Linked DNA regions of Homo sapiens: regions 1, 3, 4 and 5 are each linked to region 2. Evidence: fine-mapped expression QTL. A gene starts in region 2. Each other region holds a variant in brackets. All regions are shown on one strand. Distances are from middle to middle. Region 1 has its middle 28 kb from the start of RPL29. Region 2 holds the start of RPL29 (ribosomal protein L29). Region 3 overlaps PARP3 (poly(ADP-ribose) polymerase family member 3). Region 4 overlaps LOC105377085 (a long non-coding RNA gene). Region 5 has its middle 11 kb from the start of IQCF1.

Region 1 (5,100 bases), 28 kb before region 2:
TCCAGGCAGAGAGAAAAACCTGGGCAAGGGCCAGATGGCTAGAGGGACCATGAAAACCCGAGAGCATTTGGGGCAGCTGGAGTGGAGGGAGGGAGTCGAGTTCCAGGGAGGAGGCTGGAGTGTGGGTGGGATCAGGGGCACACAGGGCCTCATAGGTCCAGCACTGGGGAGCCGTGACAGGCCATGCAGAAGGAGCAGGAGGTCAGGGGTGATTTTGAGAGGTCCTTCTCTGGCTGCTGGGTGGAAGGTGGCTTCGGTAGGATTTTACTCCCAAAAGTCTGGAGTTGATTTTGCTGGTGTGGCCAGGGCTGCAGGTTTTGTACTGTTCCCTGTGGTCTCCCCATGCCTGTCTAGACCCAGGGCTCCTGGTCTAGGAGGGCAGGGTGTGGGTTCATGGCTAATTCATTTCTGAGGGCCTAGTGTCCATCACAGGGCCAGACACGTGGCAGGGGCCGAACAGATGTGTGCTGAGTGAGGGAGGTCACTAATGGGGTGCTCCACTTGTCTGTCAATGCCCATGAAATTGTCTGGCCCTGCCTCTACCCGCTGGCTTGTGTCCTCAACCTGGTCAGTCCAGGCAGGATGTGCAGGCTGACAGGCCAGGCATCCAGGAAACAGACTGTGTGCCTCTCCTCACGCGCACATGTTGGCAGCCAGCTGGGGAGGCTCTAGCCTGGAACCCACCTCAGCCATCTGGGGCCATATTCCCAGGACAGATCAGATGGGCAGCTAGTGTTATGCAGCCTGCAGAAGCCCAGGGCCCTACCCACGGAGTCCACCCTGACCCCAGACTCCATTCAGGCCGAGGCGGGAAAGATGAAAAGTTGGGGGCAGAGGGTGGGTAGAGGTTAGGATGCAGAAAACCTTGGCTGGGAGTTTGAGGGGAGAAGCACCTCACTCAAGAAGGACTGTCCAACAGCTGCAGCTGGGCAAATTTACCAGGCAGTTGGTAAGCAGTGAGCTCTGTGTCTGGAGAGGTATGCAAGTGAGATCAGGAGCTGGAGGATCTCCCAGTTCCTCTCTTCCACCCCGTTAGGAATATTCCCCACTAAGCATCCTCTGTCCTATTTGAGCCCTGAAAGCCATCCCTCTCCTGCCCCGGAGCAATCACTGTGGCTGCCACGGCTATGGGGCCTCCCCTCCCCACCTCACTTGTCTCTTCTGTAACACAGGGGTGGGTGAGCTCAGGGAGGTGTTTTCCTTTTATTTCTGCATGCAGCACCAAACAATAATTGCACTTATTCTCAACATCTAGAATAATTTTCTTCTAAAAGAAAACCACAAAAAGTCCCAAGTCAATTAGCAAAAACATAGGAAGCCACCTTCATTTCAGGTCACGTGAAATAAAACCCGTGTCCCATGTTTTCCTTGAAGTAAATTTAATTATTTCTCCAAAGGCCTGAGGCCATGTGGAAGGGGCCTAAGGGAGGCCAGTGTGAGAGATCCCAAGGAGCCCTCTGTTTGGGTCAGGCAATGGGTCCAGCCCTGCTTCTGCACAGCACCCCCCACCCCCTCACCCCTGCTCAAAGGCCTCCTCCCTGATGAAATGCAATCCTCCCAATGTGGCTGACTGACACTCCTCCCCACCCCCTAATCTGGACAAACCAATGTTTCCACCCACTTCTTGATGCCCACTCCCTCACTCTCTGCTCCTGGGATTTTCGTTCAATGCTCCTTCCTCCTATAATTGTCTTCCCCTCTCTTCCCCTCACCAAGAGCACATTCATTTTTTGGGGTCTCAGTTTATATGCCTCTTCCTCCAGGAAGCCCTCCCTAACCTCACCAGGCATTCCCACAGCCACCTGTGCACCTTCTCATTCTGTCCTGTACCTGGCACAGAGAATGTACCCAGAAAGTGTTTTTTGAATGAATGACTTCCCCCCGGAAAATGACCTCAGAACTCTGGGTTGGCCTTATCTGAACCATGCTGGCTCTAAGTTCGTTGTCAAACCCCAGAAGGGTACAGGCTTCCCCTGAGCCCTGGATGCTGGTCTGGGACCTGGGGATCCCTGAACTGAGGGGCAGGAGGGTGTGTGTGTCCTGAATTCTTTCTGAATGTGGTCCTGTGATCTGGGACTAGACCAACTGAGGGCCCTCTGTGAACAGGAAGCAGGAAGGAGAGCCGGGCCTCTGTTCTCCCACCCAGTCTCCAATTTAGAGGAAACGCAGCCTATAATTTGGAAGGCTAATTTGGTCTGGGGTTAGAAGGGAGCTCTCTGTGTGCCGAATGATGCCACGCTCTCCCAGGGGAGGAAGCATCCCCTCCCTGGGGACCTGGGGCCTCTGCTCTCAGTTCCAGGCCACACTGCTCCAGTGTGCTCCCTCCTGAGGCCTGAGCTGGGGCCCCTAGAGAGTCAGGCAGCCGGTCCTCAGCCAGGGGAGAAGGAGGGAGGGAGAAACCCAGGGCCACACTCCTTGGTCACTGACTGTCCGGTCCACTGACTGACTGGTGCTCCCGGCATCAGGAAGAACTAGTGGAGGGTCTCCAAGGACCAAGTCCACATGGTGAGCATTGCCCCAGGGTGCCCCTGGCCAGCAGGTCATGCCCATTCAGGCAGGAGCTCAGGAGAAATGTGGGCAAAATGGGCATTGTAATGACCTGGTCCAAGAAGCCTCACTCTCTAGCAACCCTGACCCCAATTCCTGCCACTCCCCGAGCTTAGGCACACTGAGTCATTTAAGGTCCTTCCCAGCATGATGGCCGCTGTCATGCTGCTTTTCCTCCTCCCCTGGGAAGTCCTCCATGTCCACCAGGCTGGTCAGGAACTACCTCCAGGCTCCTTGTCTAACAGGTACCTGGTTGCTTCCCCATTGGGATAGGGGCTCTGTGAGAGTGGGTTCCAGTTGTGGTCACCTTGGTGGTCAGAGCCCTGGCCAGGGCCTGGCTCAGCAGAGCTAGTGATGACGGACAGGCAGAGAGGCTGCACCACTCACAGATGTATGGCCTTGGGCAAGGCCTGGCACTTCCCTGGGCCTCAGTTTGCTTGTCTGTGGGCTAGGCACAGAGCAGTAGTTCAGTATTTGATGACTAAGTGAATGAATGCATGCATGCATG[A/C]ATGAATGAATGAATGAATGAATGAATAAGGAGTTGGACTGGACAGTCTCCAAACCCTGGAGCTCAAATCCTCTACAGTTTCTCTCTCCTCATTTGAGTGCTAGTCTCTCTGCTCAGGCTTGTGTCAGCAAGGACTGGGGAGGGGAGAGGTCCTGGGGTCAGTCAGGGCAGACAGGAGCTGCAGGGAAGCTGAACGCTGGGATAGGGTGTCGGGTGACAGGGTCTGGGGAGAGGCGGGGCAAAAGACTCTTCAGGGTGAGGGGTGAAGGTGCCCATCCCTGGACCTGGTGTTCCAGGACCCCAGCCTGCCTGCGGCAGCGCGCCATCCCCACGACACACCACCCCAACTCACCCACAACCCAGTGGCTTCTCTTGAAACTTCTGCTCGGCTCCAACAGTCTGTCACTGGGGCTGGTGATTCACACACTCCGCTCTTCTTTCCTCTTCCCAACTAATTATAGCTCCTGCGTGTTTTTCCCCCTGGAAAAATGTCTTCTTAAAAAAAATATATCCCCAAGCCAGTGAAAATTAATTGGGTGAGCATCACTGTGTACAATTCAGACTGGCTCCGAAGACAGGCAGGTCCCAGGTTGTGGGGGCGTCTACTGCCCAGCAGAGGAAGGACGGGCGTGGGACGCAGGGTGCACATGGGGACAAGCAGCAGAGGCTCCACCCAGCCCCCATCCGACTGGCCATGGCTCTGGGGATCCTGAAGAATAACCGCCACAGTGATGGTAACGGGGACTCTACTGAGCGCCACAGCATGCTGGGCACAGTGCCAGATGCCTGCCATGTGCATTGACATTTAACCTTCTGATGCCTGCTGAAGCTGGCCTTGGAATTGGTTCCACTCTGTCGAAGAGGAAACTGAGGCTCAGAAACTCATCCAGGGTCACACAGCCATAGTGGGGGCGTTGGGGGTGACCATGAGCCATGTGGTGCTGGGAGTTGGGAGCCAGGGTGGGGGGGCATGGCCAATGGCCTGACCAAGGGGAGGCCCAGCATCATTAGGCTCCCCAAGGGACAAGCAGAGCAGGCACGCGGCCCTCTGTCTCGTCTCTCCCTCGCTTGCCTCCTGGGAATCACAGGAGCTCCCCTGGCACTGGGCCAGAGCTGAGACTACAAGTCCCCTAAGCTCTTCATGGGGCCCAGTGCGTGGCAGTTGGAGCAGATGTCTGAGCAGGCATCCTGGCCAGGCAGGGAGGGTTCCAGAGTCACAATGACAAAGAGGTGGAGATAATCAGAGACAGGACAAGAGAGAGCCAAGCAGAGCTAGAGAGGGGACAGGGAGTCACCAGTCCAACTGCAGAGGCAGAGAGGCAGAATGGAGACTGAACCAGAGACACAGCCGGGTCTGAGTCTGAAACCAAGGGACAAAGATAAAACCCAGGGAAACAAGATGGAGAGACACAAGGGAGAACCAGAGGGCTGCTGTGTAGGAGACAGCCTGGAGAGAGGCAGCACCGAGAAAAGAACAGGAAAAGGAAGGTGGAGGCCCACGGCCTCAGGCCAGGCCTTGCTGGGGAGGGTTCCTAAGAGCAGGGGCAGGCAGGGGTGCTCCAGGCCTGCTTTGGGCGTTGGGAACATGGTTCCTCCCAGCCTGTATCAATCTAGGAAGACTGCCTGGAGAGTGGCCCCAGAGCAGGAGAGCATGTGGATGTTAGGACATTAGGAGAACCGAAGGCATGGGGGGCAAGGGAGCAGGTAGGAGGTGGCAGCCACCCTGGGCCCATCCCGGGAGAGGCTCCTTTGGAACCCGGTCTCTGAGGGTGGCCAGTCTCTCCCTACCCCAGCTCAAAGGCAAGGACCCTCCCCAGGGGCTGAGGAAAATCCAGGCAGAGTTAGGCCAGCTCATTTCCTGGATGGAGAAGTGAAGTCAGTCTGAGACAACCCCTCAGCACCCCAGTCCCCACCAGCCATTAGGAAATAAACCCCCTCTACCAGCTCCAAAGGCCAGGGGCCTGTCTCCCTCCTTACATTCCTAAGCTAGAGCCAGGTCTCCTTCAGCCTACATCCTTTAGCCTTCCCAGAACCCTTAGGGCAGA
Region 2 (5,100 bases):
CATGTCCTGCCTCCACAACCTCCTTTCCGCTTCACTCCCTAAACCTCTGCAGTATGCGTCTGTCACTCCACGAACCTGGCTTGTCAAGGAACGTTCACTGGGCATGTGTTTATTAAGCTCTTGCTCTATCTACATTATGCTGAGTTAGGCAGTGGGAAAATGAAGGTGATCAAACCAGTCCCAAACTCTGGGCTCCTATGATAATGGACACATACACAACTAAGTAAACAATGCAATTAGAGTCTGGGAAAGTTCTATAAAGAAAGCAAACCATGGCCGGGCACGGTGGCTTACGCCTGTAATCCCAGCACTTTGGGAGGCCGAGGCGGGCAGACCACCTGAGGTCAGGAGTTCAACACCAGCCTGGCCAACATGGTGAAAACCCGTCTCTACTAAAAATAATTCTTTAAAAATTAGCTGGGAGTGGTGGTGTGCGCCCGTAATCCCAGCTACTCAGGAGGCTGAGGCAGGAGAATCGCTTGAACCCGGGAGGCAGAGGTTGCAGTGAGCTGAGATCGCACCACTGCACTCCAGCCTGGGAGACAGAGTGAGACTGTCTAAAAAAAAGAAAAAAAAAAAAAGAATAGAAAAGAAAGGAAACCATGAGAGGACACAGAATCACTGGTGAGATGAGGCAGTGGTTCTCTATTTTAGATAATGGAGTCCAGGGAGGCCTCTATAGGAAAGAGCACACCATCCAAAAAGCAGGGAGAAGGGCAGTCCAGGTGGCTGGGATAGCAAGTGCAAAGGTCCTGAGGCAGAACACACATTTGTGGTTGGCAGGAAAGAAAGGCAATGCGTTTGGAGAGAAGTAAATGACAGAGGTTGTCAGGGTCAAGTGGGTAAAGAATTGATCTTCAATGCAAGGGGATGTCCTTGCAGATTTAAGGGACAGGATCTGATTTGTATCTTAAAACAAGTCCCCAAGCCCCACTGCCGTGTGGAAAATGAACTATAGGGGGAAGAGGTGGAGAAGGCAACAGAGTTGTTAGAGGCAACAATTTCTCAATTCTGATGTCCAACAGGCATCTCACATTTAATGCATCCAACAAAAATATCTGGCTCATCATTCCCCCTCAAAACAAAACAAACAAAGCCCCTGCTCCCCACTCAATCTTCCATCTCTGTAAACAGCCCACCATTCACCCAGTTGTCAAGCCAAAGACATAGGGGCTATCCTTGCCTCCTTTTTCTCCCTCATCTTCTGTGTCCCAAGTCCAGTACTCTTTCTTTGTCCACTCCTCTGCATTCCCACTGTCCTCCCTCAGGTCCAGGCAGCCCTCTCTCCTTCCTCCCCTCTGCTCCTTCTCCACGAAAGAGTCAGGCGTGCTTTTCTTTTTTTTTTTTGAGACAGAGTCTCGCCCTGTAGCCCAGGCTGGAGTGCAATGGTGCGATCTTGGCTCACTGCAACCTCCACCTCCCAGATTCAAGCAATTCTCCTGCCTCAGCCTCCAGAGTAGCTGGGATTACAGGCACGTGCCACCACGCCCCGTGAATTTTTTTTTTTTTTTTTTTTTTTTTTTTGGATTTTTAGTAGAGATGGGGTTTCACCATGTTGTCCAGGCTGGTCTGGAACTCCTGACCTCGTGATCCGCCCACCTCAGCCTCCCAAAGTGCTGGGATTACAGGGGTGCTTTTAAGAACACAGATCGGCCAGGTGCGGTGGCTCACGCCTGTAATCCCAGCACTTTGGGGGACAGAGGCGAGCGGATCGCGAGGTCAGGAGTTCGAGACCAGCCTGGCCAACATGGTGAAACCCCGTCTCTACTAAAAATGTAAAAATTAGCCGGGCGTGGTGGTGGGCGCCTGTAATCCCAGCTACTCGGGAGGCTGAGGCAAGAGAATCGCTTGAAACCGGAAGGCGGAGGTTGCAGTGGGCCGAGATTGTGCCACTGCCCTCCAGCCTCGGTGGAAGAGCGAAACTCCGTCTCAAAAAAAAAAAAAAAGAAAAAGAACACAGATCTTCTTGCCCAACAACATCCCTCAAGGACTCCTTTCTTTTTCAGTATCTTGAATAAGACTTAAGAGACAGGTCCTGGAGAAACAGAGAAGGGAGGAGGCAGCCTGAAGGGGGCGGAGGCAAGCTCGTAGCACCGCCTCCACGTCTGGCTTGCGTTCTTCCGGGCTTCGGAACTTTTCTTCGCGGAGCCTGGGGAAGCTTTTCCAGTAGTACTTTCCGGCGTTGTTGACCCTATTTCCCGTGCTGCACCGCAGCCCCTTTCTCTTCCGGTTCTAGGCGCTTCGGGAGCCGCGGCTTATGGTGAGTGTTGGCCGCGCGGCATCCGATGCCATCCGCGACTTACGGGTGGCGGCGGGGCGCGGGCTGCGGAGAGGACTGGTGACCGACCGTGTGTCTGTCGGGAGCAAAAGCTGCGGGGTGGGAATGGTGCTTCTAGGTCCTAGGAGGGGGATGGCAGGGAAAGCCACTTTATTGGGGAATGCAGCTTTCCGGGGGTAAGGAGTTGATTTCAGGGCATCATTACCTGGGTTTGGGAGGCCAGGACTGGCGTTTGGTCGTGCAGAGTAAGCCGAGACTCGTGGAGGCTGCACATTCTCTGCCTGCAGGCTCATTCTGACCAGAATGGGGGGGGCAGAGGTGGCCCAGCCTGGCGAGCCCTTAACCCTGATCTCCACTTTTGTCTTCCAGGTGCAGACATGGCCAAGTCCAAGAACCACACCACACACAACCAGTGTAAGTTTTTTGGGCCCTGCCTACATCCCAGACCCTGGCAAGGACTGGTTCAGGCAAACTGGGACAGAGATGAAGGGGCACGTTTCCATTGTGGGCCTGAGGCTGATTGATTTCACCCAGTAATAACTTTAGGGTTTATAGGTTTAGAGATCTACTTGAGATACAGAGTGTTTTGCATTTAGTAGTAAGGGTTTCCCATATCTCAAGTGTAGCTGCTGTAGGAAGTGTTGGTTCTCCCAGACTTGCCAGCTGTGATGTTGGGTGGTCTTATTAGAGGAAAGTTCTTTGTTGGCTTAATTCCCTTTTTTTCTCCCACAGCCCGAAAATGGCACAGAAATGGTATCAAGAAACCCCGATCACAAAGATACGAATCTCTTAAGGGGGTGAGTGCACTGAATCACATGGAAGTGTCTTTTCTTGGTTCCAGGTGCACAGTCAAGGCCTCTCATGTAGTTTTTCTCTAGCTTTGGCTTCTGCCTGAGCACAGCCTAACTGGCCCACCCAAAGCCTGCAATTCCTTTTTCTACCCTACCAGACCCATAATAAAGCTTTCCTTGGTCTCCACAGCCTGAAGTGTAACCCTCTGGTCAGGGTGTAACCTGCCTCCTGAGGGCAGTTTGGCTATCTCCCTTGCTTGGCAGTGGCACTTAGGGTAAGGAGTGGCCTTGTCTGAGTGCGTGCAGGGCACATTCCCACACTGACCAGCCTTATGACCTCCATCTGACCCAGTGCTGGAGTTGGGGTCAGCTTCTCTTCCTGTGTCAGGGGGTTCTAAGGATTAGCTGAGAAGGCTGGAGGGTCTAGGGGAGAGCTGAGCATGTCCCCAGTCTGTTCCTTCCCTTTACTTTTGCTCTCTGTTCCGTGGAGTGAATCACAAACTCTGAGCCTCAGTTTCCCCATATCCCACCTTGGCTATAAGTCTTTTGGACCAGACTTGGTATTTAATTGACACCTTCTTCTAAAGAGGGGAGGGGGTGTCCCTGAGGGGATGTCAGGAAAAAACTTGGTCGAACCCCTGCTGTAGGAAGTTGAAGCCCCACAACCTTGGCAGACAGGGCAGCAAAGCAGCTTGTAATTTTGTTCTTGAAGGAGGTCTGCACAGCATTACCCAGGTGGCGTATTGGCTCCCTGGGGTGGTGGTACACTTTCTCTGGAAATAGTTTCAAGAGGTTGGGTATTTCCACATTTGAGGTTGACTTGATGCTGTCTTTAGAATGCTGGGTACCCCTATGGAGAGGGGCAGCAGGGAGAGACTTGGGGACCCACATGCTGCCACCTGTACCTTTCCTGCTTTTCAGGTGGACCCCAAGTTCCTGAGGAACATGCGCTTTGCCAAGAAGCACAACAAAAAGGGCCTAAAGAAGATGCAGGCCAACAATGCCAAGGCCATGAGTGCACGTGCCGAGGCTATCAAGGCCCTCGTAAAGCCCAAGGAGGTTAAGCCCAAGATCCCAAAGGGTGTCAGCCGCAAGCTCGATCGACTTGCCTACATTGCCCACCCCAAGCTTGGGAAGCGTGCTCGTGCCCGTATTGCCAAGGGGCTCAGGCTGTGCCGGCCAAAGGCCAAGGCCAAGGCCAAGGCCAAGGATCAAACCAAGGCCCAGGCTGCAGCCCCAGCTTCAGTTCCAGCTCAGGCTCCCAAACGTACCCAGGCCCCTACAAAGGCTTCAGAGTAGATATCTCTGCCAACATGAGGACAGAAGGACTGGTGCGACCCCCCACCCCCGCCCCTGGGCTACCATCTGCATGGGGCTGGGGTCCTCCTGTGCTATTTGTACAAATAAACCTGAGGCAGGATTTGTTAGCCTCTGTCTATGATCCTGGGGATGGGTTTGGTTGCTCCATCTGTTGGTGTGGGAGAAGACATGGGTCTGGATGGTGGGGTGTGGGTGGGAGTCAGGAGATGGGGCCCTGAAGTGCAAGAGGAGGACCTAATGAATGAGAAATGATTGGGGGCTTTTGGGAAGCTCGGGCACATAGCTTGCTGGACTGTGTAACCTGCCGAGCAAAGGGAGAAATTTTTTTTTTTTTTTTTGAGACAGAATCGTGCTCTGTCACCCAGGCTGGAGTGCAGTGGTGCCATCTCGGCTCACTGCAAGCTCCGCCTCCCAGGTTCACACCATTCTCCTGCCTCAGCCTCCCAAGTAGCTGGGACTACAGGTGCCTGCCACTACACCCGGCTAATTTTGTTTTTGTATTTTTAGTAGAGATGGGGTTTCACTGTGTTAGCCAGGATGGTCTTGATCTCCTGACCTTGTGATCTGCCTGCCTCGGCCTCCCAAAGTGCTGGGATTACAGGCGTGAGCCAGTGCTCCTGGCCCAAAGGGAGAAATCTTAAACATCCTCATGAGGTCTTAAAGCTTACTGCAAGGGAGGGGAAGGGGCCCCGCTGAGCAGCTCTGCACTCT
Region 3 (5,089 bases), 50 kb after region 2:
CAACCGTCACTCCCTCCTTGTCCCGGCCTGCTCCCTCCCACCTCACTGTGCTCCCTATGGCCAGGCATCTGTACCCTCTGCTGTCCTCACCAAGGTCAGCAATGGCCTCCCAGTGACCAAACCCGTGGCAGGGGCTTTTCTCCCTGGCCTGCTCTGCTGACTTTGCTCCTGACATCATCAGCCCCTACCTGGGACTTCCTCGCGCTGGCTCTCCTAAGCCCTCCACCCCGCCACTCTTTCCTAAGCCCCTCTGCCCTCCTGGTGGACCCCTTGCTCTTGGTGACCTCAGGCATCCTAGAACTTCAGCCCCATCTGTTCTGGGATGAATCCTTGGTCCTTGCTCTCTTGGCCAGCTGGGTGGTGGCCTCCAATGATGGGGACAGCCTGGGTGGAGGAGCTGGTCTGGGGGGGTCATTTTGGTGAGGACACTCCTGGCCAGAAACTCAGAAGTCACTGGAGACAGCCTTGACCCTTTCCCACACGCTCCCCATCCCATCTCCTACATGCCCCTCTCATGGGCTCCCTCCCCTGCACTTCCCAGCCCTTGGGCCAGGCACCCATCACATCCAGCCTGGATAAGAGGATGGCCTCTCTGCAGCCTCTGGCTGCTGCCCCCCTCTCCACAGCTGTAGCCACTGGGATCCTGCTACAGACAAGTCCAGCTGGGCTAACCATCACTCTCTGGATAAAGCCTCCTCGATCGTTCTGGGCCCCTAGCCCACCCTGCCCCCGGCTAGGCATTGCTCTGAGCTCCAGTATCAGGAAGTGTTTGGAAGCCCTGACCTGCCACATCCTCACATCCTCCCAGCCTCTCTGCCTATCCCCTTGCCTTGACGTCTCCTCTTTTTTATTTTTATTTTTTCAGATGGAGTCTGGCTCTGTCACACAGGCTGGAGTGTGATCATAGCTCATGGCAGCCTTAAACTTGTGGGCTCAAGCGTTCCTCCTGCCTCAGCCTCCAGAGTAGATGGAACTACAGGTGTATGCCACCACACCTGGCTCAAAGGCTCCCCTTTTACCCCCTCCCAGGTCTGGTTGGTGCACCCATCCTATCTGTATTGCCTCCCCCAGGAAGCCATCCCTGACCATCAGACACTTTCTCTAAGACCCCCCGCCACCAAAGCCCAGGACAGCCCACTGAGCACTGTAGTCATTAACCATTAAAGGATTCCTCTCTTGGATTCACCATGAATTTCCAGTGGCCAAGGACTGGGCCCAATCCATCTTAGTGCCAACCCTCCCAGGGCTTGGCCCAGAGGGGCACCTCACCATATCCAGCTGACTTGCTGTTCTCTGAGGCAAAGTAGATGCCCTTGCCAACACGCCCACCAGAATGTGGCATGATGCGGAGCCCACTAGTGAGGATGGCGGCCACCACGGCCATGTTGGTGCCATGCCACAGCAGCTTCCGATTACCCAGTTTGGAGTGGGCCTGGAATCTGTCTTCCTGAGTGGAGAGGAAGTGAGAAATGGGAGTGATGCCACCCGAGCACTCAGTCGCCTTGCCCTGCTGCTTGTGACCAAGGCCTAGTGTCCCTCTGCTTACTCACGCGCACTCATGGCCGGCAGAAACTGACCAGAGCTGCTAAACGATTTGCTAAGGGACCGATTAGCCAAGGACATCTTCCTAAGGCACAGTGGTGATGGGGGAGAGGTGGGGGAACCTCCCTCACCTCCCCTTCTTGGTTTACTTTCCAGATGTGTTGAAGTGTAGGGCACCTGTGGTTGCTGCCAGTCTGTTCTAAGTAGGTCTGTATCACCTGTGGGGAGAGCAGAAGCTGGTTGCCAGGGTGGGAGGCTCAGGAGCTAATCCCCCATTTTTCTTCCCCCAGTCCCAAGCCCTCCTCAGGCCCTGGAGACACAGGAAGAGAAGGCTGAGGGCGAGTATTCCTCTGGGCACCTCGAGGGCAGGTGGGCAGAGGGACAGTGCCCACTGATAGCCTGGCCCCTCTGTGGGGCCCAACTCACCTTGTACTCAGGTGCTCCAGAGTCTAGCAGCTGCAGCTGGCACTTGAGAAGCTGGTAGTCTCGGTCCAGGGGGTGTGGCACCTCCTCCACCGTCTTCTCCTGCTCAGAGACTGCCTGCAGGGCCTGGGCCAGCTCGATGTCCGCCAGCACCTAGGATGATGGGCCCTGGCAGTTTGTCTTCCCACTTGACCTCTGGCCTCCCCTCTCCTCTCTCACATGACTGGTATTGTAGCCACCCCACCTGTGTGTCCCACCTGTCCCTCCCCACCCTATCTGTCTGCCCAGCCTTCCCCACCCGTCTGTCAGCCTGCCCAGGCAGTCCATCCTTCTGGGCCTTCTTGGCCACCTGCCCTTCATCTCGCTCGCCTAGGCTGTCTGTTCAGTGCCCCACTGCCTGCCCGCACCCCTGCCAGCCCTCACCAGCAGCATGTCCTTCTTGGCCTGCAGAAGCTCAGGGGAATTGATGGGCGGGGGCTGGCTGTGGCCGAAGTTGTGCGGGATGACGGTGTAAAAGTGTGAGGACAGCTCCTCCAGGCTTTGGCCACCATCCGTGGGGCCTTTCAGGGCCTCCTCCAGCGCCTCCAAGGCCTCGAAACCCCGTGCAATCTGTTGCTTGCTCAGCTTTCCCAGGGGCATCTTCTTCACATCTAGGGGGACAGGGGAGTGGGGAGACTCAGCCCCACAGCCCTGCCACCCTGAGGCCCCTGCCACCCTGCCTGCCTCTCACCCCTCACCCAGGTCCATGAGGGCCATGGTGTTCTTGAACATCTCCTTGCTGAAGATGTTAGTGATGAGCTTCTGCGTGGCTGGGTCCAGGGAGCAGGGCTGCACCCGCTTAGTCACAGTCCTCACTGGGCCTCTGTCCACCTGAAGATAGAGGGCACATGTGGGCAGGAGCAGCGGGGCAGGGCGTGACACCAGACAGAGACCAGCCAGCCTGAGGCCAGAGGGGAGTTCTGTGGCTGAGGCTGCGCAGCTGGGCAGTGGCAGAGCCCAACCAGCGGGAACTCTCCAACGAGTCCCCTCCCTCAGTCCAGGGCCTGCCCACCTTCCTTGGCCATCTCACCTTCACCACAGCTTCCTGGGCCTCATCCTCTGCCTGTACTTC[G/A]ATAAGTGTGTACTTGCCCGGGTGAGACACAAAGTGGTCCCGCTCTGCCCAGTTGTTCTTGGTCTTTTCCCGAAATTTCTTCTCAAAGTCCTTCTTTGCATCTTCTAGCCTTGTGAAGTGGTTGATCTTTGACTGGCCGACCTCTCCCTGCAACCGACAGCCTTCAGGGGTATGCCCACCATCAGCATTTGCTGGCCTGTGTGTCGGGCCAGGCCCTGTGCTGAGTGCCCTGGGACAGTTGGGAGGTGCCCCCCCAAGTCAGTAGCTGTGGCCTTTTGAGGACCCTGGGGAGTATGTGCAGAGCAGGCAGGGCACTCACCACACGGCCCCAGCGGTTCCAGCAGGTGAAGAAGCGGTTGCTGTCTTGGAGCAGCTGGATGATGTAGAACTTGTTGTTGTTGTTCTCGATGTTGGTCTGGTTCAGGGTGCAGTTGTAGTCCTCATACACCTGGGCCAGAGGGGAGGTGGGGGGCAGGCTGGCTGGGGTCAGATGGGGTGCCTGGCCGTACACCGAGAGGGCTCTGATGGGGACAGGAGTCTGACGGCAGTGGGAGTCAGAGGGACCCTGTCTTGGAAGCTTGGGGGGGTCACTGCTCTTCCCTAGGGGATGCGGTGTGAGAGGACATGGCTAAACCCTGACATGGAGGTATGGGGGGTGCTGGGGGGGACACAGCTGGGCCCTGGATGGGGGAATCTGAGAGGGACATGGCTCTGCCCTGAGGGGACATGGGCAAGCGCCCAGGAGACTGATGTAGTCACAGCCTTTCCCTAAGTGCGGTGGGAGGAGGCCTGCATGGGGTCTGAAGGGCAGATGTGACCCGCCTGGACCTGACGGGACACAGCCCTGATGTCTGGGGTCAGGAGAACATGGCCTTGCTCTGGCGCTTACCTGGGGGCCTTGGGCTCCAAAACCAGAACAGAGTCCTAAGGGGGTGGCCTGGGTGTGTTTGTGCTTATCAGTGGGCAGGCTCTGGGCCTGACTGGGGACTGCAGCTCACCTGGGTCCCGGGGTTGCTGCTGAGTGGACATGTTGGATCCACGCGGATTATGCGCTTCTCTGCGGGTATGGCCTTGAGGGCCTCAGCGGTGGAGCGGAAGGGGTCCTCCTCCCTTCCTGCCTGCCGGCCCTTCTTCTTCTCAGGGCCCTCAGTCTGTACCCAGGGCTTCGGCTTTGGAGCCATGGCTGTCCTGGGGCACAGAGAGGCCCTTAGGCCTCCATGGTCTCCTCATCCCCAACGACCCACTCTCAGTCCCCACCCCTGCCCTGGGCCAGCACAGCACCAACTTGCCCCACCCCGGGTTGGCCCTTCGGTGGCCTCCCACTGCATCCTGTGTCCACTCTGACGGCATTCCCAGCCCCAGACCACACCCAGCTCTTTGTCACTCAGAAACACCCCTTTCCCCAGTCCCAAGTGCAAGGTTAGGACTCTGTCCAGTCTGCCCACTCTGGTCAACAGGGTCTGCCTGGCTCCCTACCCTCTGCAGCTCACCTGTGTGTCCTGAGGGGTAGGGAAAGTGAAAGGAGGCTCTCTCTCTTCCACTTCGGGGCTCCTCCCCCTGTGTCAGCTAGTTCAGCCCTGGCATGGTTGCCGGGCCGAGTCACCGAGCTATGGGGGAGGGTGGGCAGAGGATCCTGGGGGCAGGATTCTTGGGGCCAGATTATCCTCCCGGAGCTTAGAACCCAGAGCTGTAGAAGCCCTTCCCAATGGACTCAAGAGTTCTGAGGAGCCAGAACTCCGGATCAGTGGCCTTGAACTGATAGAGGGCAAAGGCCAGTCCCACCAGGCCTTGCCCTGCCCTGCCGTGGGCAGGACCATAGGACACTCACCCAAGAAAAGCAGGGACATGGGAGAGGTCCTGGCTGCCACCCGGCCTGGTTGTGTGCGCCTCCCAGGGCAGTCCCAGGTCTAGCAACTCTCCATGAGCCTCAGGCGTGAATTAGGGAGAGAATTCCCAACAATCGCCAGAGGCCGGGGATGAGCTTGTGTGGGGGATTAGACATCGGCTATTTGG
Region 4 (5,100 bases), 470 kb after region 2:
ACCATAGCTAAAAAGTAGAAGCAACCCAAGTGTCCACAGACAGATAAACGAATAAACAAAATGTGGTGTATAAATTGATGGACTATTATTCAGCCTGTAAAGGAAAGGAAAATCTGACACATGTTATAATATGGGTGAACCTTGAAGACATTATGCTAAGTTAATTATGCCAGACATAAAAGGGACAAATATTATATATTCGACTTATATGAAGTACCTGGAATAGTCAATTTTATAGAGACAGAAAGTACAATGGTGGTTGCCAGAGGCCATAGGGAGTGGGGAATGGGCAGTTATTCTTTAATAGGTACAGACTTTGTTTGAGAAGATGAAAAAGTTCTGGAGATGGATGGTGATGATGATTGCACAATATGAATGTAACGCCACTAAACTGTACACTTAAAAATAGGTAAAATGGGCTGAACATGGTGGCTCACACCTGTAATCCCAGCATTTTGGGAGGCCAAGGTGGGCAGATCACGAGGTCAGGAGTTTGAGACCAGCCTGGCCAACACGGTGAAACCCCGACTCTACTAAAAATACAAAAAGTTAGCCAGGGATGGTGGCACGTGCCTGTAGTCCCAGCTACTCAGGAGGCTGAGGCAGGAGAATCGCTTGAACCCAGGAGGCAGAGGTTGCAGTGAGCCGAGATCGCACCATTGCACCCCAGCCTGGGGAACAGAACAAGACTCCCTCTTGAGAAAAATAAATAAATGAATAAAAATAGCTAAAATGAGTTGGGTTCAGTAGCTCACGCCTGTAATCTCAGCATTTTGAGAGGCCGAGGTGGGTGGATCACCTGAGGTCAGGAGTTTGAGAACAGTCCTACCAACGTGGTGAAACCCTGTCTCTACCAAAATACAAAATTAGCCGGGCATGGTGGTGTGCACCTGTAGTCCCAGCTACTCAGGAGGCTGAGGCAGGAGAATTGCTTGAACCTGGGAGACGTAAGTTGCCGTGAGCCAAGATCTCGCCATTGCACTCCAGCCTGGGCAACAGAGAGAGACTCTGTCTAAAAAAAAAATTAATAAAAATAAAAAAAATTTAAAAAAAATCTAAAGTAAATTTTGTAACATATATTTTGTCACAATAAAAAAGCATTATAAAGGCTGGGGGCAGTGGCTCACGCCTGTAATCCCAGCACTTTGGGAGGCCGAGGTGGGCAGATCACCTGAGGTCGGGAGTTGGAGAACAGCCTGACTAACATGGAGAAACCCCATCTCCACTAAAAATACAAAATTAGCCGGGCATGGTAGCACACACCTGTAATCCCAGCTTCTCAGGAGGCTGAGGCAGGAGAATCGCTTGAACCTGGGAGGCAGAGGTTGCAGTGAGCCAAGATCGCACCATTACACTCCAGCCTGGGCAAGAATAGCAAAATTCCATCTCAAAAAAAAAAGCATTATAAAAATAGATAAATTGGACTTTATCAAAATTTAAAGGTTGGGAAATCACAGACATTATCCAAAAAGTGAAAAGTGCTGGATGCAGTGGCTCATGCCGAGGTGGGAGGAAAACCTGAGCCCAAGGGTTCAAGACCAGCCTGGCCTATCTCTACAAAAAATTTAAAAATTGGCAGGGCGCGGTGGCTCACGCCTGTAATCCCAGCACTTTGGGAGGCTGAGGCAGGCAGATCACGAGGTCATGAGATCGAGACCATCCTGGCTAACAAGTGAAACCCCGTCTCCACTAAAAATACAAAAAATTAGCTGGGCATGGTGGTGGGCACCTGTAGTCCCAGCTACTCAGGAGGCTGAGGCAGGAGAATGGTGTGAACCCGAGAGGCGGAGCTTGCAGTGAGCCGAGATTTTGCCACTACACTCCAGCCTGGGTGACAGAGCAAGACTCTGTCTCAAAAAAAAAAAAAAAAAAAAAATTAAAAATTAGCCACATGTGGTGGCACGTGCCTGTACTCTCAGCTATTTTGGGGCTGAGGTGGGAAAGTCACTTGAACCCAGGAGTTTGAGACAGCAGTGAGCTGTAATCTTACCACTGCACTCCACTCTGGGTGACAGAGCAAGATCCT[G/T]TTTCAAAAAAATTAAAATTTAAATTAAATTTTAAAAATGTAAAACAAAAAACGTGTACAGGATTTTATTTTGGGGTGATGAAAATGTTTTGAAACTAGATAGAGGCTGGAGCAGTGGCTCATGACTGTAATCCCAGCACTTTGGGAGGCCGAGACAGTTGGATCACCTGAGGTCAGGAGTTCGAGACCAGCCTGACCAGTATGGTGAAACCCCATCTCTACTAAAAATACAAAAAAGCCAGGCATGGTGGCGTGGGCCTATTCTCCCAGCTACTCGGGAAGCTGAGACAGGATAATTATTTGAACCCGGGAGGCGGAGGTTGCAGTGAGCCGAGATCACGCCACTGCACTCCAGCCTGGGGGACAGAGCAAGACTCCTCAAAAAAAAAAAAAAAAAAGCCAGGCACAGTGGCTCTCGCCTGTAATCCCAGCACTTAGGGAGGCAAAGGCAGGCAGATCACGAGGTCAGGAGTTCAAGATCAGCCTGGTCAATATGGCGAAACCCTGTCTCTACTAAAGGTACAAAAAAATTAGCCAGGCCCGGTGGTGCATGCCTGTAATATCATCTACTTTTTTTTGGGAGGCTGAGGCAGGAGAATCGCTTGAACCTAGAAGGTGGAGGTTGCAGTGAGCCGAGATTGCGCCATTGCATTCCAGCCTGGACGACAGGGTGAGACTCCGTCTCAAAAAAGAAATAAACTAGATAAGGTGGTGGTTGCATAACACTGTGAATGTACTGAATGCCACCTAATTCCTCATTTAAAATGACTTTATGTTATATGAATTTTACCATAGTTTTAAAGAAAAGGAAACTGAAGCTCAGAGTGATTGAGCTACCTGAGATCTTACAGCCAGTAACTGGTGGAACCATAAACTGAACCCAGATCTGTGAATTCAAATAAAGCATATGTTACACAGTGAGAAAGTAGGTGCATTTACTTTACTTACTTCAGAGGTAAATGACTGTTATGCTGGTGCTTTCTCTCTCCTTCCCTCCCTCCCTCCCTCCCTCCCTCCCTCCCTTCCTTCCTTCCTTTCTCTCTCTCTCTCACTCGTTCTTTCTTTCTTTCTTTCCTTCTTTCTTCCAGAGACAGGGTCTTCATTACCCCGGCCGGAGTATAGTGGCATGATCATAGCTCACTGCAGGCTTGACCTCTTGGGTTCAATTGATCCTCTCTCTTCAACCTCCTGAGTACCTGGAACTACGGGTGTGCAGCACCACATCTGGCTAATTTTTTTTTTTTTTTGTAGAGACGAGGTCTCACTATGCTGGTGCTGGTGTTTTTCTGAGAGCAGGTGTTTGTAAGGGAGGAGGGACGATGCCTTCTGCATAGCAGGCACACAATTTCTGTTTCTCTGAGGAAGGAAAGGGCAATGATTCCCACTGATAAGGCTCTGAGGTCTGGAGAGAACTTAGGATGTTTAGGAGGGGCCATAACTCCCTCAAAGCAATGAAAGGATCTTCCTTAGGGATGGGAGGGAGGGACTAGCTTTTTTCACATGCTTTGTGACATTGGTCAAACTACTTAACCTCCCTGAGCTAGGTTCTTCATCTGTAAAACAGGAATAACATGCTTACAGTGGCGAGAAATTGGGAAATGGCCTATAAACACTTTTTAAAGTGCTAAATGGGCCAAGTATGGTGGCTCATGCCTATAATCCCAGCACTCTCGGAGGCTGAGGCAGGAGGATCCCTTGAGCCCAGAAGTTCAAGACCAGCCTAGGCAACATAGTGAGACCCCATCTCTACCAAAAATAAAAATAATAGCTGGGTGTGATGGTGCACATCTGTAGTCCCAGCTACTTGGGGGAGCTGAGATGGGAGGATTGCTTGAGCCCAGGAGTTTGAGGCTGAAGTGAGGTTTGATTATGCCACCGTACTCTGGGCAACATAGCAAGACCCTGTCTCGAAAAAAAAAAAGCAATTACATAAGGTAAGCTGGGTTCCCCAGACTGAGCTGCACTTTTGCAGTTATCTAGATTGTAGCATCCCATTCTTACTGGAATTGTGTCTGATTGCTCCAGATGGGACCAGGTCAGTCTACTGCAGTAGCCCTAAAATCTGGACAAGGATTGGCTTCTGTGAGCATGTATTGAAAAGGTTATTAGGGTTGCTACTGCCCACACATTCACCATCTGGTGATTCAGTTTCACCCAACAGACCCAGGGGATTTGTTATACAGAGATGAAAACCTCACAGTCCCTAAGGCCCCTGGGAGAAACAGGTGCAGAAACATAATTTCATTTTTTTGAGATGGAGTCTCACTCCATTGCCCAGGCTGGAGTGCAGTGGCACAATCTCGGCTCACTGCAACCTCCACCTCCTGGGTTCAAGCGATCCTCCTGCCTCAGCCTCCTGAGTAGCTGGGATTACAGCCACTTACCACCATGACTGGCTAATTTTTGTATTTTTAGTAGAGTCAGAGTTTCACCGTGTTGGCCAGGCTGGTCTTGAACTCCTGAGCTCAAATGATCCACCTGCCTCAGCCTCCCAAACTGCTGGGATTACAGGCATGAGCCACTGCGCCCGGCCAACAAACATAATTATAATACAGCCTTAACTCCTGTGAGAAGGGGGGTTCAGAAAAGGAAATATTTGGCTCAGACACTTAAGAGTCAAATCCTTCCTTTGGCCACTCCTCACCCATTTCCAGGCCTTATCCTAATCCCATAGCAGTCACCCAATGGGTTGGATGCACAGTAATGTGTGACTGGTCCAGTTCAAGCCAGAGGGTCATCTTTCCCTCCCAGCTAGTAAATCTACTCCCTCTAATGCCCAGCCCAAACATGACCTGTTTTGTGATGGCTCCAAGAACCTGAAGGCCAGCCCTTTTTCTGTGCTTTCTTTGCACTTCACCCCACAAATACTTTTTGGGTAAATTTCATTTTGGTCCTGGAGATGGATTTATACCACTTGGCTTCTGTCCTAAGCCTAAATGTCCATTGGAGGAGTTAGAACAGCAGCAGGCAGTGGTAGTTACACCACTGCAAGAGGGGAGCACAAGGTAAATACTCCCTGAAGGAGCTATAGGAGACACCTTTGGGGTCTTTTTAGCCCATCTTCCCCTCTGTAA
Region 5 (5,100 bases), 81 kb after region 2:
AATTTCGATTCAGTTATATTTCTTTATTTTTAAATTTTTGGTGGACCTGTCTGCCCTCCTGAGGGAGAGGGAGGGCAGGGCCCTGGTTATATTTTTGTTTTGTTTTATTTCTTTGCTGAGAGCTCCTATCTTTCTATTCATTTAAAAAGAGTTCAGCCAGGCGCCGTGGCTCATGCCTGTAATCCCAGCAGTTTTGGAGGCCGAGGCAGGCGGATCACCTGATGTCAGGAGTTTGACACCAGCTTGATCAATATGATGAAACCCTGCCTCTACTAAAACAATGCAAAAATTAGCCAGGCATGGTGGCAGGCACCTGTAATCCCAGCTACTCGGGAGGCTGAGGCAGGAGAATCACTTGAGCCTGGGAGGCAGAAGTTACAGTGAGCTGAGATCACGCCATTGTACTCCAGCCTGGGCAACAAAATCAAAACTCTGTCTCAAAAATAAAAAAAAAAAAGGGTTCACCTTTGCTTCATGGATAATGGTGATGATAACTGCTTTAAAGTCTTTGATATTTCCAACACGTGAGTGACTTGGGAATGGCAAAAACTGATTGTCTTTTCCCTTGGGAATTAATCAGATTTTCCTGGCTCTTCACGTATTGAGTAATTTTGGATTGCATCCTAGACAGTTTAAATATTACATCTCTGGACAATGTTTAGTTTTTATTTTAGCAGGCAAATCAGTTACGTAAAGGTCAGAGGCTTTGTCTTGCTTTCCGTGGATGATGATTCTAATGTCAGTGTCAGTTTTCAAAGCCTTTTCTATGCTGTTTGAGTCTGCCCTTGCATGTGCTACGTAGGGGTTAGTTTGGGACTTGGTAGTGGTTTTTTGTTGTAGTTCATTTTTCAAAGGATGCTGTAAACCAAAAGCATCCGAGACAAGTCTCAGTTTAGGAGTTTATTTTTCCAAGGTTAAGGACATGCCTGTGACACAGCCTCAGGAAGTCCTAATGACATGTGCCCAAGGTGGTCGGCCTACAACTTGGTTTTATACATTTTAGGGAGTCATAAGACATCAATCAATACATGTAAGATGTACCTTGGTGTGGTCTGGAAAGGCGGGACAACTGGAAGTGGGGGCTTCCACGTCATAGGCAGATTCAAAGATTTTCTGATTGGCAATTGGTTGAGTTATTATCTAACGACTTGGAATCAATAGAAAGGAATGTCTGGGTTATAAGGGGGTTGCAGAGACCAAGGGTTTATGATGCAGATGGAGGCCCCAGGTAGCAGGCTTTAGAGAAAATAGATTGCATGTGTTTCTTATCAGCCTTAAAGAGTCTGTTCTATCAGTCTTAAGGTCTGTGTTGATATTAATAGTAATGAGGCATGTCTGACTCCCACTTTCCATCATGGCCTGAACTAGTTTTACAGGTTAACTCTGGAGTGCCCTTGCCCAAGAGGAGGGGTCCATTCAGGTGGTTGGGGGCTTAGAATTTTATTTTTGATTTATTATGTGCAGCTAAGGCGTGAGCCTGAGACATGTGTTTGTTATACACAGAATTAGGGGATTCCTTTTTCCTTATTTTCTGAACTTTCCTCATTCTTCCACTCCTAGAGATTATGTTCTTGGTTCCTCTGGCCAGAAATATGGATTTGTCTCAGAGTTTTAGACCACCACACTTCCATGCAGTTCCATGTGACTAGAGCTGCCTTCAGGGCAAAGGGGCAAAAGAAATGAGAAAAAATTACTTCTTTCAGACTACAGGGGTCCCGTCCGTTTGTACATTTACTCTAGCTAGGGAGATGATTTTTCAGGTGCCCATAGCACCACCACCGGGACAATGCGGTTCTGTGACTGGGCCTGGCCTTGGGGTAGGGCTAAGAGAAAAAAGAGAAAGAAAGAAAGAAGAAGGATGCTGTCCATACTCTCTAGCATGAGGAAGTGTCTTTTTCTGATCCTCTGATCCAAAATAAGGACTTTCTTTTGGATTATTTACTTTCACACTTGTGCGGTTCTGCATTTTAGGCTATCTTTGACTTTGACTTGACTTTCTTCCCCAATCTGTGTGCTATTGCTACTTTTTCTTTCCTTCTTCTTCTTCTTCTTCTTTTTTTTTTTTTGAGATGGAGTTTTGCTCTTGTTGCCAAGGCTCAGTGCAATGGCCCGATCTTGGCTCACTGCAACCTCCACCTCCCGGGTTCAAGTGATTCTCCTGCCTCAGCCTCCCGAGTAGCTGGGATTACAGGTGCATGCCACCATGGCCGGCTAATTTTGTATTTTTAGTAGAGAGAGGGTTTCTCCATGTTGGTCAGGCTGGTCTCGAACTCCCAACCTCAGGTAATCCGCCCGCCTCTGCCTCCCAAAGTGCTAGGATTACAGGCGTAAGCCACCGTGCCCGGCCGCTATTGTTTACTTTTCAGAGTCTAGTTGACTTTGTATTCTGTCCAGAGTTTTCCATTGTAATCACTGGGAAAGATTGTCTGTAGTGTACTTACTTCATCTTGCCAGCACTGGATTCAATGGTATTTTAAAGACATTTAAAAAGATGATCTTTTCTGTTTGCCCACATAATCACCATTGTGAGGCTTTCATTTCCACCTGCTGCTCTGAGCTTCCACCCGGGACCTTCCTTTAGCATTCTGGCAGTGTGAGTCTGCTGGTAATAAATTATCTCAGCTTTTATATTTTGGAAAATGTCTTTATTTCACCTTCCTTGAAAAGGCGAAGGTATAATTTATATACAGTGAAATGGAGAAATCTTAAATGTGAAGTTAAATGAATTTTGACAAATGCATATATCTCAAATCCACACCTCATCAAGATATAGAACACTCATATCATCCCAGAAAGTCCCTTTGTGTCCCTTTCCAATCAATCTCAACTCCCAGAGGCAACCACTGTTCGAGATTTTTTTTTTTTTTTTTGAGATGGAGTTTGAGATGGGCAACTTTTGTTGCCCAAGCTGGAGTGCAATGGTGCAATCTCGGCACACCACAACCTCCGCCTCCCAGGTTCAAGCCATTCTCCTGCCTCAGCCTCCCGAGTAGCTGGGATTACAGGCATGCGCCACCATGCCTGGCCAATTTAGTATTTTTAGTAGAGATGGGGTTTCTCCATGTTGGTC[AGGCTGGTCT/T]CCAACTCCAGACCTCAGGTGATCTGCCCGCCTCAGCCTCCCAAAGTGCTGGGATTACAGGCGTGAGCCACCACGCCTGGTCCATTGTTCATGATTTCTATCATAATATATTAGTTTTGCATTTTTTTAAAAAACAGGGTTTTGCTCTGTCACCTAGGCTGGAGTACAGTGGCTTGATCCTGTCTCACTGCAGCCTTGACCTCCCAGGCTCAAGTGATCCTCCCACCTCAGGCTCCCAAGTAGCTGGGACCACAGGTGCACACCGCCACACTTGGCTAATTTTTTTTTTTTTTTTTTGAGACAGAGTTTCGCTCTTGTTGCCCAGGCTGGAATGCAACGGCATGATCTTGGCTCACTGCAACCTCCGCCTGTCAGGTACAAGTGATTCTCCTATCTCAGCCTCCCAAGTAGCTCAGATTACAGGCATGTGCCACCACTCCTGGCTAAATTTTTTGTATTTAGTAGAGATGGGGTTTCACCGTGTTAGTCAGGCTGGTTTTGAACTCCTGACTTCAGGTGGCCCACCCACCTCGGCCTCCCAAAGTGCTGGGATTACAGGCATGTGCCACCACACCCATCCTTGGCTAATTTTTTTAAAAACATTTTTTGTAGAGACAGTGTTTTCCTAGGTTGCCCAGGCTGGTCTCAAACTCCTGGGTTCAAGAGATCCTTGGCCTCTTAAAGTGTTGGGATTATAGGCATGAGCCACCACAACAAATGTGCATGTTTTAAATTTGATATAAATAGAATTATACAATATGTTCTGTTTTGCATTTGGCTTTTTTTGCTCAATATAATGTCATGGATAAGATTCACCCATGTTATTGCATGTATCATTAGTTCTTGGCTATTTATTGCCCAATTGTATTTTATTTTATGAATATACCACAATTTGTGTATCCATTATCCTATTTATAGATATTTCACTTGTTCCCAATGTTTGACTATTATGAGTATATGCTATGAGCATTCCTGTACAAGTCTTTTTGTGAATATGTTTTCATTTCTCTTTAGTAAATACCTAAGAATGAAATCGCTGAGTCAGAGAGTAGGTGTAGGTATATGGTTAATTTTAAAAGAAATAGCCAAATGAATTTCCAAATTGGTTGTATTATCAAAAATGTATGAGAGTTTCATTTGCTCTACATCCTTGCCAACATTTGGTATTCTCCTTTTCTTTTCTTTTTTCTAATTTTGGCCATCATGATGGTGGCTTAAATTTTGTCTTTCCCTGATATCTAATGATGTTGAGCAAATTTCATGTGTTTGGAAGCCACTTGAATATCTTCTTTTATAAAGTATTGGTTTAAGCCTTTTGTCCATTTTTATTAGTTTGTTTTTTATTACTGAGTTGTAAGAGTTCTTATATTCTGAGTAGGAGTCCTTTGCCAGATATAGGTATTGTGAATATTCTTTCCTCAGATTGTAGCTTAAGTGCTGTCTTTCTTTCTTTTCTTTTTTTTTTTTTTTTTTTGAGACAGAGTCTTGCTCTGTCACCCAGGCTGGACTGCAGTGGCACAATCTCAGCTCACTGCAAGCTCCGCTTCCCAGGTTCACGCCATTCTCCTGCCTCAGCCTCCTGAGTTGCTGGGACTACAGGTGCCCGCCACCATGCCCAGCTAATTTTTTGTATTTTTAGTAGAGGTGGGGTTTCACCATGTTAGCCAGGATGGTCTCGATCTCCTGACCTCGTGATCCGCCCGCCTCGGCCTCCCAAAGTGCTGGGATTACAGGCGTGAGCCACCGCGCCCGGCCGAGTGCTGTCTTTCGATAAGCAGAAGTTTTAATTTGGACAAAGTCTAATTTATCAAATTTTTTTTGAGACAGGGTCTCACTCTGTCATCCAAGCTGGAGCACAGTTGTGCAAACATGGCTCATTGCAGCCTTGACCCCTGGGCTCAAGTGATCCTCCCACTTCAGCCTCCCTGAGTAGCTGGGACTACAGGCGCACGCCACCACGCCTGGCTAATTTAAAAAAATTTTTTTGTAGAGACAAGGTCTCAACATGTTTGAGTCTGGGC

What was found.
Region 1: its variant is fine-mapped to the expression of RPL29 in whole blood (INTERVAL, PIP above 0.99).
Region 3: its variant is fine-mapped to the expression of RPL29 in whole blood (TOPMed, PIP above 0.99).
Region 4: its variant is fine-mapped to the expression of RPL29 in whole blood (INTERVAL, PIP above 0.99).
Region 5: its variant is fine-mapped to the expression of RPL29 in whole blood (TOPMed, PIP 0.90).

What each region holds. Positions count from the first base shown.
Region 1 is chr3:52,021,158-52,026,257 of GRCh38, reverse strand. No RefSeq gene overlaps it. Among named protein-coding and RNA genes, the nearest start is that of RPL29, 28 kb to the right of the region's middle. RefSeq lists an enhancer at 1,949-2,328. The variant A/C (reference allele first, on the strand shown) is at 3,056.
Region 2 is chr3:51,993,017-51,998,116 of GRCh38, reverse strand. RPL29 (ribosomal protein L29) reads left to right here and starts at 2,222. Exons shown (of 4, transcript NM_000992.3): 1 at 2,222-2,260; 2 at 2,648-2,692; 3 at 3,011-3,075; 4 at 3,991-4,595. The coding sequence starts at 2,656. The coding sequence ends at 4,368. RefSeq lists enhancers at 2,118-2,277, 4,031-4,763.
Region 3 is chr3:51,942,524-51,947,612 of GRCh38, reverse strand. It overlaps PARP3 (poly(ADP-ribose) polymerase family member 3), which reads right to left. Exons shown (of 11, transcript NM_001003931.4): 1 at 4,905-5,089; 2 at 4,075-4,259; 3 at 3,396-3,524; 4 at 3,035-3,223; 5 at 2,703-2,835; 6 at 2,389-2,615; 7 at 1,969-2,118; 8 at 1,674-1,760; 9 at 1,270-1,447. The coding sequence starts at 4,257. Among named protein-coding and RNA genes, the nearest start is that of PARP3, 2.7 kb to the right of the region's middle. The variant G/A (reference allele first, on the strand shown) is at 3,077.
Region 4 is chr3:51,520,349-51,525,448 of GRCh38, reverse strand. All of the region lies in intron 1 of LOC105377085 (a long non-coding RNA gene), which reads right to left. Among named protein-coding and RNA genes, the nearest start is that of RAD54L2, 16 kb to the left of the region's middle. The variant G/T (reference allele first, on the strand shown) is at 2,027.
Region 5 is chr3:51,912,137-51,917,236 of GRCh38, reverse strand. No RefSeq gene overlaps it. Among named protein-coding and RNA genes, the nearest start is that of IQCF1, 11 kb to the right of the region's middle. The variant AGGCTGGTCT/T (reference allele first, on the strand shown) is at 3,071.